Regions from separate parts of the Homo sapiens genome. Here region 1 is linked to region 2. The links come from fine-mapping of genetic effects on gene expression. A gene starts in region 2. The other region holds a variant in brackets. All regions are shown on one strand. Distances are from middle to middle.

Region 1 (5,363 bases), 32 kb before region 2:
AAAGAGAGAGGCCAGACGCGGTGGCTCATGCCTGTAATCCCAGCACTTTGGGAGGCCAAGGCAGGTGGATCACCTGAGGTCAGGAGTTCGAGAACAGCCTGACCAACACGGTGAAACCCCATCTCTACTAAAAATATAAAAATTAGCCAGGCGTGATGGCGCATGCCTGTAATCCCAACTACTGGGGAGGCTGAGGCAGGAGAATGACTTGAACCCAGGAGGTGGAGGTTGCAGTGAGCCGAGATCAGGCCACTGCGCTCCAGCCTGGGCGGCAGAGAGAGACTCTGTCTCAAAAAAAAAAAAAAAAAAAAGAATTAGGGACAGTGTCAAGTCCGTCCATTCTGGCCACAGTGTCCAACTTCAGGGACAGTAGGTGGCTTTTGGGGCACAGAGCCAGAGGCTGCAGTGGGGCCAGGCGTGGCACCCAGTGTTCAATGGTGGCAGCGGCCGATCGCTCCCGTGGCCTGACTTTGCCTCGGGTTCTGGGAGCTGCACCCTGTTTCTGTGGTTCTCCAGCCTTCCTGGTACCTCCTGAATCCCTTCCAGCCCCCATGGATAAAGTTAAGTGCCTCCCTCTCATGTGCTCCCTGGAACCACCTCCCTCGCGGCCTCATCAGCTAAGGTCTTTGTCCCCACACCACATGAGCACCCACTGAGGGCAGGGACAAAGCTTCATCTTGTCCACTTCTCTATCCCTGGGCCCAGCTCCAGCCTTACATGTAGAGAAAGTTCTCGTTGTGAGTGAATGCATGGCTCTTTGGAAACAGAAACAGAACCAGGAAAGGATTGACCCAAAGTCCGCTGCAGAGATTGAGCTCCCCCAGCCCCAACAGGGCCCCCCGCTACAGAGGCCTGGGGAACAACCCCAGAAGGGAAATCAGGAACCAGCCCGGGAATGGAATGTCCTAGATCTACCTGAGATCAGGACCCTCCTCCCCTTCCCAGCATGCAGTGACCTGCAAGAGTCACACAGGAGGGAGTCCTGGGACCATTCTCCCTCCTAGAAAAAAACCCTAAAAGACAAAGCTGTAGCAACTGCCTTAGAAGGACAGGCTGAGTGGCCGGGCGCGGTGGCTCATGCCTGTAATCCCAGCACTTTGGGAGGCCGAGGCAGGCAGATCACCTGAGGTCGGGAGTTCAAGACCAGCCTGACCAACATGGAGAAACCCCGTCTCTACTAAAAATACAAAAATTAGCTGGGCGTGGTAGCAGGTGCCTGTAATCCCAGCTATTTGGGAGGCTGAGGCAGGAGAATCGCTTGAACCTGGGAGGCGGAGGTTGCAGTGAGGGGAGATCACAGCACTGCACTCTCCAGAGCCTGGGCAATAGAACGAGACTCCGTCTCAAGGAAAAAAAAAAAAAAAACAGGCTGAGCTCCCTGGCTTGTGGGGAGAGAGCAAGGGGCCTGCCCAGAGCTGAGTGATCTGGGATGATGGGTGCAAGGGAAGATGACCTCCCTGCAAATTAATGAGGCAGCTTTCTGTTCATAAACCACCTGCCATGACAAGCCTGGCCTGTTCCCAAGACAATGTCCAGGCTCAGAGCAAGCCAGATCCAGAACAGTTTCCAAACTACATTCCAGGGAACCCCAGTGCTCCACAGGCATTGCTGGGTGTGCCATGGGGAGCCTTGAATTAAACACATATAACAATGCAGGACTCCTCAGAGCATTTAATGCGCTGAGGCCCTTGATGACTTTCCAAGAGGCAGCACAGTACACGGCTGATGACAACATTTTTGCTGAGCATCTATCATAAACTTCCAACCTCCTTGAGCTCCAAGGAACATAGCTTGCAAATGCTGCTGTGGGCAGCACCCCACTACCTGCCACTGAGAAACTGAGGTCCCATCTCTTAAGTCTCACTCCCACCCTCTGCTGGGGGCAGTGGGGAGCCAACCTGTCCTCCCCTTGCGGGGCTCTGCACACATTGCACACGTCTCCCTCTGGGGAAAGGGGTGCCAAGGAACTTCTGGGCCAGCTGAGCCAAAATACAGACTTGGAGTGTGAACTGGCCAAGTCACTGCCTCCTCCCTGAGGGTCCCTCCCTTTGGCACCCGCCACCTTATCTCCAGAGAGGCCACCGTGGCACAGAGCCCCAGGCTCCACAGGTGGCTACTGACCGTCACCCACCTCTGGGCCAAGTCCACTCTCTTTTTGTTTTCTTTTCTTTTCTTTTTTTTTTTTTTTTTTTTTTTTTTTGAGACAGAGTCTTGCTCTGCCCCCCAGGCTGGAGTGCAGTGGTGCAATCGCAGCTCACCGCAACCTCCACCCACTGGGCTCATGTGGTTTTCCTGCCTCAGCCT[C/T]CCAAGTAGCTGGGACTACAGGCGCGGGCCACCACTAAATCTTTGTATTTTTTTAGTAGAGATGGGGTTTCACCATGTTGGCCAGGCTGCTCTCGAACTCCTGACCTCAATTCATCCACCTGCCTCGGCCTCCCTAAATGTTGGGATTACAGGTGTGAGCCACCACACCCGGCCCCAAGTCCACTCTCATTCTTGCCCTGCCCCCTGTGGGCCACAGGACAGCCCTCTGTAGTAACCACTGAAGTCTGGTAAATGAACAACCTCAGCCCCTTGGAAGTCCCAAGAGATCCCAGCAGCTTCCCCTGCCTTGTCACCGCACCTGAAGAATGGTGGTGTGTGGTGGAAGGAGTACAGCCCTGCTCTGGGCCATCGGCTACCTGCATGTCCCCTCTGCTGGAGCCACAGGCCCCTCTGTTGGGCCAGTGTCCACATCCCACACCACAGCCAGGCCAGGCTTCTTTAGAAGCTCCCCATCACTGAGCCAACTTCCTCTGCCAGTTACACATATCACCCAGATGGGGTGATTTCTTACTGCAGAACACTTTGTTAATTGACACACCATTGAACTGAGCTGATGACTCCCGTGACTTGGTATCCTTAGTCCCTGATATGTTTTGGCTGTGTCCCCACCCAAATCTCATCTTGAATTGTAGTTTCCATAATCCCCACATGTAGTGGGAGGGACCTGGTGGGAGGTAATTGAATCATGGTGGTGGTTACCCCCATGCTATTCTCATAATAGTGAGTGAGTTCTCATGAGATTTGATGGTTCTATAAGGGGCTTTCCATCTTTGCTCATTCTTCTCTCTCCTGCTGCCCTGTGAAGAAGGACGTGTTTGCTTTCCCTTCTCTCATTATTGTAAGTTTCCTGAGGCCTCCCCAGCTCTGGGAACTGTGAGTCAATTAAACCTTTTTCCTTTGTAAATTACAGAGTCTCAGGTATGTCTTTATTAACAGTATGAGAACAGACTAATACAGTACCAATATCTTTTCCTGATTCACTCATGGCACCTGAAGATGGGAAGAAGTAGCACAGACACAGCTGTGATTTCCGGCCCCTCTATGAGCTGCATGCTGACCCTTGGACATGAAGATTCTCTCTCTTGGCTCTGGAAGGTGCCAAGAAATAAAATGATAAATGGAGATGCAGCCTGGCTAAAGGACAGTTCAGCAGTAGGGTGGACTTCAGGGTTGGTTCGATCCAGCAGCTCAGCTGTGTCCTCAGGACTTGACCTCTTCCCTCTCTCCTCTGTCATCCATAGCCTCAGCTGGACCCTGAGGTATGGTGTCCTTGGGGTGACAGGCTGGCTGCCAGCTGCCATTAGGGCTAGGTGCTTCCTCATCTGTGACCAGCAGAAATGGGTGAGCATCTATCCCAGCATCCCGTGCATTCCAGCAACTGACCTAGAGCAAGCTTGGAGGGACCAGAAAGCACAAGTGGGAGGAACAGGAGCTGGGTAAGCTACACACACTACACAAAATCACAGATCAAAGCCACTTGGTCCTGGGCCAGGCTCAGAGTCCATGCTCAAATATCAGCTACCACTTTTATTCTATGTAAGTCAATATTTGGGCTAATAATGAGCCCATCTTCCCTTGAAGCTAACAGTCTAAGGGATGGTGAGATGACATAAAAAGACACCTGGAGTCTCCACCAATGACTGGCCTCATCATCACATGCAAGACCTCCCCGTACCTTCTCCATCTGCAAAATGAGGGTTAAAATATCTCCTCACCAAACTCACAGGAGAAATCATGCTTTATAAATGCAGAGATGTTGGCCATGAGGCTTCTGATCCTTGCTACAGGCTTTCAGATCTTTATTCTGAGCATTGGCAACAACACGTTTCTGAGAACATCTCCTTTGGCAAATGGTAGGTCAGGCAGAGCTGCTTCAACAGAAGATGTTTTTGCTTTCAAAAAAAAAAAATTGTGTATGCCTTTTAATCCAAATGGCTGAATTGCTGATTCAATCAGCAAACATGGAACAGACTGAGAAAGTGCAGCGTGAGCTCCGAGACAGCAAAGAGGGCCATGAACTTCAAGGATGTTTATGGAGCGATTGCTGAAACCAGCTTTCTGAAGAGGTAAGTCTCCACCAGGCAACAGGGAGGCACGATGCGGGAGTGCCGTGGGATTTACGATGTTCATTAAGTCCATCAGCTTCCAACTCCCTCTGCAACCTGCATGTCCAGCTCGGCTACCCGGGGCACAAACAAGCTCTCCAGCTAAATTACCAAGATTCTTAGTGCCCGGCTGCACACCCACAGAGCACAGCCCACCTCAGCACCTGCCACCCCTGGGGATTCCAGGGCATGTTGAGTGTCTCCCACATGCTCAGGTCCAAGCCCACACCTGGCTTCCACCTGGCCCCATCCTCTCTGCATCCCCTGCTTCTGCTGGCCTCCAGTGTTCCCAGGCTGCCAGTCCTAGAGAGTCAAGGTTAGGCTAGGGTTGGGGCAGAAACACACGACTTTGTGCTGTCCCATAGCTGCACTGTTCTTTGTCACCCAGGCCAGAAGGGACACTGCCTGAGCCCAGAAGTTTGCTACCACTCCCAGAAACAGATCCCCAGGCCCCAGCCCAGCCGTCACTTCGCAGCATCCACCTCCACCATTCTTGCTGCCCCTTCCCCTCCCAGGGCACCTCTGCACCAAACGACTTCATTCTCCTCCTCCAGTTCTGAGAGATAAAACCAGCGGGCATGCCCGTTCCTGCAAACAGGACCAAGCCAACACAAGGCCCCCAGGCCCACAAAAAGCAGGCTCTGTTCCCAGTACAGATGCCTCAGGGACACCCTGCTATATCCATGTCAAACTTCCCTTTATTCATGAATAGAGATGGGAAGTGAGGCATCAGGTGTGCTCAAAAGCTTTGCTATCGGTTAAGAATTGCACCTGGCTACAAGCTACAGAGAATCAAAATAACAGTGGCTATAATAAGGGAGAGGTTAAATTTTGCTCTCATGTGAAAAGAAGTCTAGAGTTAGCCAGCCCAGGGTTGATACAGCAGGTCCACAGCCATCAGTGACCCAGGCTCATTCTATCTTGCTCTCTGCC
Region 2 (5,363 bases):
TTTCTGGGAGGGCAAGAGGTCCTGCTTAGATGTCGAAACCTCTCCTGTGCCCCAGTGCCCCACAAGGCCCAGAGTAAGACTCGCTCAACTTGTGAGGTTGGAGAGCTGAGCTGTGGAAACTTCTTGGAGCTATTCACTTCTGCAGCCCCAGAATGCAGGCCCAGAGCAGGAAGAGGCAGGAAGGAGAAGGATTGAATGGGGCACTGCAGGCAGAGGTGGCCTCCACTCACCTCCTCCGTCAGGAACTCCTTGCTCAGCCCGAAGTCCGTGAGGACAATGTGGCCCTCGGAGTCCAGCAGCACATTCTCCAGTTTCAGGTCTCGGTAAATGATGCCGAGCTGGTAGGAGCAAGAGGGGTGCTGAGGCTTCCTCCCCGAAACCCTCCCCAGCTCCTCCAGCTCCTGGCCCTGCTCAGGATAAGGAGACCCCCCAGAGAAAGTCATCTGCCTGTAGAGGGGGTCTCCAGGGCAGAGCCACTGAATAAGAAAGGCCATTTAAGATATAAAACAAAGAAGGAGGGCCCCGTGGATCAGGCCCCAAGGTCCCAGAGAGAGGAAAGTCTGTGTGAAGAGCTCCATTTCAAGGAGGCCTTAGGAGCCAGGCCGTGAGGTTTCCATTTGAGGAAGTTCTGTGAACGCAGCCCCGAGTTCCCTGAAAGAGGAAAGCCCCTTCGAGGAGGTGCCAGGGGAGGGGACCCCACCAGGCAACGTTGAGGCTTCCTGCAAGGGGTCCAGGGGAAGCAGCTCCAATTCCCACCCAGCTCACCACTGGCCCCCCAGGAAGCCCAGGGGGAAGCCTGAGGCTGCCCTGCGTGCAGATTCCTTCCAAGGCACAGACCCAGTTTCCATAGCAACAGCCTGCGGCCAGGTCTTCACCCACCTTGTGCAGGTGTTCCAGGGCCAGCACGATCTCACCCCCATACACGCGCACCTCAGCCTCCTTGAAGTACTGGCGCTGGTAGAGGTGGGTGAACATCTCCCCGCCGCTCACATAGTCTGGGAGGTGCAGTGGAAGTCAGGAAGCAGCCCCGTCAGGTGGCCTCGCCTGCCCCCAGCCACCCCAACCCCGTTGGGATGTGGTGTGCGCTCACCCAGGATGAGGTGCAGCTTGGCATCCGTCTGGAAAGCGTAGTGCAGCGTGACCAGGAAGGGCGCCTGGCGCACCAGCTCCAGCACCGAGCGCTCGGTGCGCGTGTGCTCTTGCGTCTTGGCGCGCTGCACCAGCGCCGCCTTGCGCAGCACCTTCATGGCGTACAGCTTCCCCGCGTCGTGCCCGCCCGCCTTCCGCACCAGGAACACCTTGCCGTAGGCTGTGGGAGCAGCGAGTGGGTGGAGGGTGGGCTGTGAGCGGGAGATTGGTGCAGGCTTGGGGGGTGGGGGCGATGCCAACCCAGGAGGGTGTGCAAATGAGGCGAAGGAGCTGGGGCAACAGGCAGGTGTGCAAAAAGCTGGCAGAGCCTTCTAAGGAAAGGGTGTGCACACCCCGGGAGGGTGCCCAGCAAAACCAGGGAAAGGATGTGCAAACCAGGCTGGGGAGCATGCATCTCCAGGGGGCCTGCTGCGAGGCATGGGGGCGGGGCATATGCAAACCTGCGAGAGATCAGATGGATGTGAAAAGATGCCAGTGCAAGGAAGGGAGGCAGAGGTGTGCACCTGGCTGGGGAAGGGATGCGCAAACCAGCGCTGGGGCATTTGCAAAATGTGGGAGGGGGATCCCATATTGGAAGAAAGGGAGGAGCTATGCAAATCACTTGAGAGGGGCGCCAGTCCCCCTCCCCAGGGTGTTGGCAAATCCAGGGGGGTATGCACGCACAGGACCGTGGAGGGAGGAGTGATGTCAATGTGGAGTGCCCTGGAAGTGGGCATGCAAACTCTGGCGAGGCAGGGCGGGGCAGGCAAGGCAGGCTGTGCCGGGAAAGGGTGGGGGGCCTGCTCAGTGGCCTGGCCCAGGCCCAAGAGTGAGCAGGCAGGAGGTCAGGGGCACCGCGCCTGGGACGCCTGCCCGGTGGATGGGGGTCCTCACCTCCCGTGCCCAGCACCTTGAGCAGCTCGAAGTTCTCCACGCTCACCTTCTCCTCGTGCCCGGTCAGGTTGGCTGTGGGCACAGGGGGCGAATGAGCCCAGCCGGTCCATGACCCGTCCCGGCCTGCCCCGGGCAGCCGCAGTCAGGCCCCACACCCACCTTCTGTGATCCGCAGCTCCACGGCGCAGCTCTCATCGTCGTCCTCGTCCCCCATGGCGGGCGGGTCGCTGGGGCCCGCGCGGCTCGGGCTCCGGGCGGCGCCGGTTACATGGCGGCTCCGGCCGGGGCGGGCGCTTCCTGGTGCCGCCTCCGGGGCCGAGGCGGGCGCCGGCACCGCCTCCCGGCTCCCCGCCCTGCGCGGCCTGAGTCAGGCGGCTGGAACGTGACAGCGCCGGGCTGCCGGTGGGCGGCCGGCTGGGGCCGCCCTGTCTCCCGAGCCCCCAGGCCAGGCCTCAGGGCCGTGCGCTCCGGGACCTTACTCGACTCTCCCGGGAACTGGAAACACCCCGTGGGAGCCATCCCTGAGCCCGTGGGTAACCTGGAGCCTCTGGGGCATTAGTCCCCAAGCCAGGAATCTGCCCGGGAATGCCGGCTGCAGCCAGTGGCTGGAGGACATTAGGAGTCTGTGCCCCAAGGTGGGGGACGAGGTGCCTGGTGCTGGGCAGGCTGAGAGGGGGTCTGGATCCTGGAAGTCACCCAACTCTCAGGCAGTGGAGCCCACCCCACTCCATCGTCCTGGGGGTGGCCAGCAGGGCCCCTCTCCCCAGAGGACTGGCCTTTGCAAGGAGGAGCCTCATCACCAAGAGGGGGCTGGAGCCCGGCCTGGGACCCCATGGCAAGGAGAGGAGTGGCCAGTTTTCTGACCAGCTTTCTGTCGGGGGTGCCTGCAGAAGCACTTCAGCCCCCAGTCACCGTGCAGAGCCCACCAGGTGCCATGCGCACCTCACGTGTTCTGCTCCTGTTGTCTCCTAGCCTGGTGCAGTACCCAGCTTAGAGCCCTGAGCAGGCCTCAAGAAGAGATGTCAGTGCCACACGGGGCTGCCCCCTCTCCCCATGAGGCCCAGGGCCCCTGCTGACTGGTCCTCCTGAGCCCCTGCTCCGTCTTCTTCCTGCCTTTCCCTTCCTGACCACCAATGGGGCCACCTAGCAGAGTGGGACAGCCATGAGGCCCCACACCCTGAGGCCGGTGGGAGGGGCTCTCAGCTCCTCTGCCAGCTGGAGAGGCCAGGGTGTCCACCCCACGCCCCTGTCCTGTGAAGCCCTGGCTGAGAGGAGGAGGAACTCAAGCTGCTGCAGGTCACACCTGGGAGGCCGGACGGACCGTCCCTCCCAGCTCTGCACCCCCCAAGTTCAGGCTGCCTTATCTCAGCCCTGGGCAGCTCCACCCTCCCCTGGGTGGCCCCAGGTACCCTGACTCACATCCTGCACCCCAGCCGAATTGCCCCGCCTCTCAGGCATCAGGCTAGAGGCCCTGGTCAGAGAGCCAGCGTCCCTCCCACCTCTCCTGGCAACCCCTGGCATTAAGTGATGCCCCGCCAGGCTGAGAACTCCCTGGGGAGGGGGCTCAACCTCAAGGAGGGAGGGGAGATGAGTAGGAGGAGGATGTGAACAGAGAGAAGACAGTGCCCTGGGAGAGGGTGGGGGCGGGGCAACAGGGGCTTCACTGCCCCACACCCCTGAGCCCAGATCTTAGACCCCAATCCCTGCTGGCTACCCAGGATGTCATCCCCTCTCCACCTCACCAGGACATCCGGGCTTTGGCCGGCCGGACTGGCCAAGACCCTGGAGAAAGGCCTGTGCTGCCCTGTCCAGGCAGGGGCCCTCTGCCCACAGACCCCCACCAACCAGCAGGACTGGGGCGGCATGTGTCCTGGTGCCCTGAGGTACCCAGTGCGGCCAACAGACAGAGCAAGACTCAGGAGGCTGCAGTTCAGCTTTATTCTCATGCCCCTCATGTCCAGTTAAGGCTCAAGATCAGCCCAGGCCACAGTCCCCCAGCACTGGGACTCAGCTTCCCACCTGGACAGGGCAGGGGGTTCTCTTGCCAACTCCTGCCAGCCTCCTTCAGCTGGGGGATCCCCCAGAGACCGCTGCCTCAGCGGGAGCCACCTGGAAGAACCAGAACTCCAGCCTGGAGCTGCTCGTGGGGGCCAGCCATCCCCCCTGTCCACACACTCGTCCCAGCTCCATCTCCGGGCCCCGGCGCTGACCGTGGAGGATCTCAGGGCCCAGGCCTCCTTGTCCAAGGACTCCCCTTGGGGTCCCTGGCTCCCTGAGCTCTTGGGCTGCCTGGGGCCTCCGCTGACACTCCAGTGCCGAGAAGGCTGCACTCCCAAGCCTGCTGTTCCCACGGTGTCACTGGCTGAGGGATGGGGTGAGGGGACGTTTCTCCGGTTCCTGTACCTCAGGGCCTAGAGGGAAAGGCTCAGCTGAGATCTGCTTCCCTCAGGAGGACTCCCAGAGTCCCAGGAGGCCCACAGGCTCGAGCACCTTCTGCCCACCCCCGACCTGCCAATACCCCCCGCTTCCAGCTGCACCACGCCTGCTGTTCCCTCAGCGGTTCCCTCTGCCCAGAATGCTGTTCTCAGGTATGTCCACACGACAAACTCTCCCCTCCAAGTCTTTGCTCCAATTTCACATCCTCTCTGAGGCCCACCCCAGCACCCCAGTTACTAAAACTCCAACCAGCCTGCCCAGAGCTCCTGAGCTCCTGACCCCTCCCCTGCTCTCCTTTCTTCCCAGAGCATTAGCGCCTCCTGATGGTCCAGCCGGGTCTAGGGCTGAGCTGCCCAGGGCGGAGCTAAGTAGGTGAGATGGGGTTGGCCTGTGACGTGCTTCAAAGACCTACTATGTTTTTTTGTTTTTTGTTTTTTGTTTTTGAGACAGTCTCACTCTGTCACCAACGCTGGAGTGCAATGGCGTGATCTTGGCTCACTGCACCCTCTGCCTCCCAGGTTCAAGCGATTCTCCTGCCTCAGCCCCCTGAGTAGGTGGGATTACAGGCATGGGACACCATGCCTGGCTAATTTTTGTAGTTTTAGTAGAGACGGGATTTCACCATTTTGGCTAGGCTGGTCTCTAACTTCTGGCCTCAAGTGATCTGCCTGCCTTGGCCTCCGAAACTGCCAAAGACTTACTATGAAAAAAATCACGTCTGGCTGGGTGGCTCACACCTATAATCCCAGCACTTTGGGAGGCTGAAGCGGGCGGATCACCTGAGGTCAGGAGTTCGAGACCAGCCTGACCAACATGGTGAAACCCCGTCTCTACTAAAAAAAATAATAATAATTATACAAAATTAGCCTGGCGTGGTGGCCCATGCCTGTAATCCCAGCTACTTG

The links. PIP is the estimated chance that this variant, and not a neighbour inherited with it, causes the effect.
Region 1: its variant is fine-mapped to the expression of RPS6KA4 in whole blood (TOPMed, PIP 0.97).

The regions. Positions count from the first base shown.
Region 1 is chr11:64,388,176-64,393,538 of GRCh38, reverse strand. It overlaps LOC124902688 (a long non-coding RNA gene), which reads right to left. Exons shown (of 2, transcript XR_007062718.1): 2 at 3,226-3,413. Among named protein-coding and RNA genes, the nearest start is that of LINC02723, 5.0 kb to the left of the region's middle. The variant C/T (reference allele first, on the strand shown) is at 2,305.
Region 2 is chr11:64,356,109-64,361,471 of GRCh38, reverse strand. RPS6KA4 (ribosomal protein S6 kinase A4) reads right to left here and starts at 2,310. Exons shown (of 17, transcript NM_003942.3): 1 at 2,182-2,310; 2 at 2,023-2,094; 3 at 1,091-1,309; 4 at 880-995; 5 at 231-338; 6 at 1-3. The coding sequence starts at 2,236. It overlaps CCDC88B (coiled-coil domain containing 88B), which reads right to left. Exons shown (of 27, transcript NM_032251.6): 27 at 3,938-4,433. The coding sequence ends at 4,378. RefSeq lists enhancers at 915-1,024, 1,758-2,285 and a silencer at 2,035-2,524.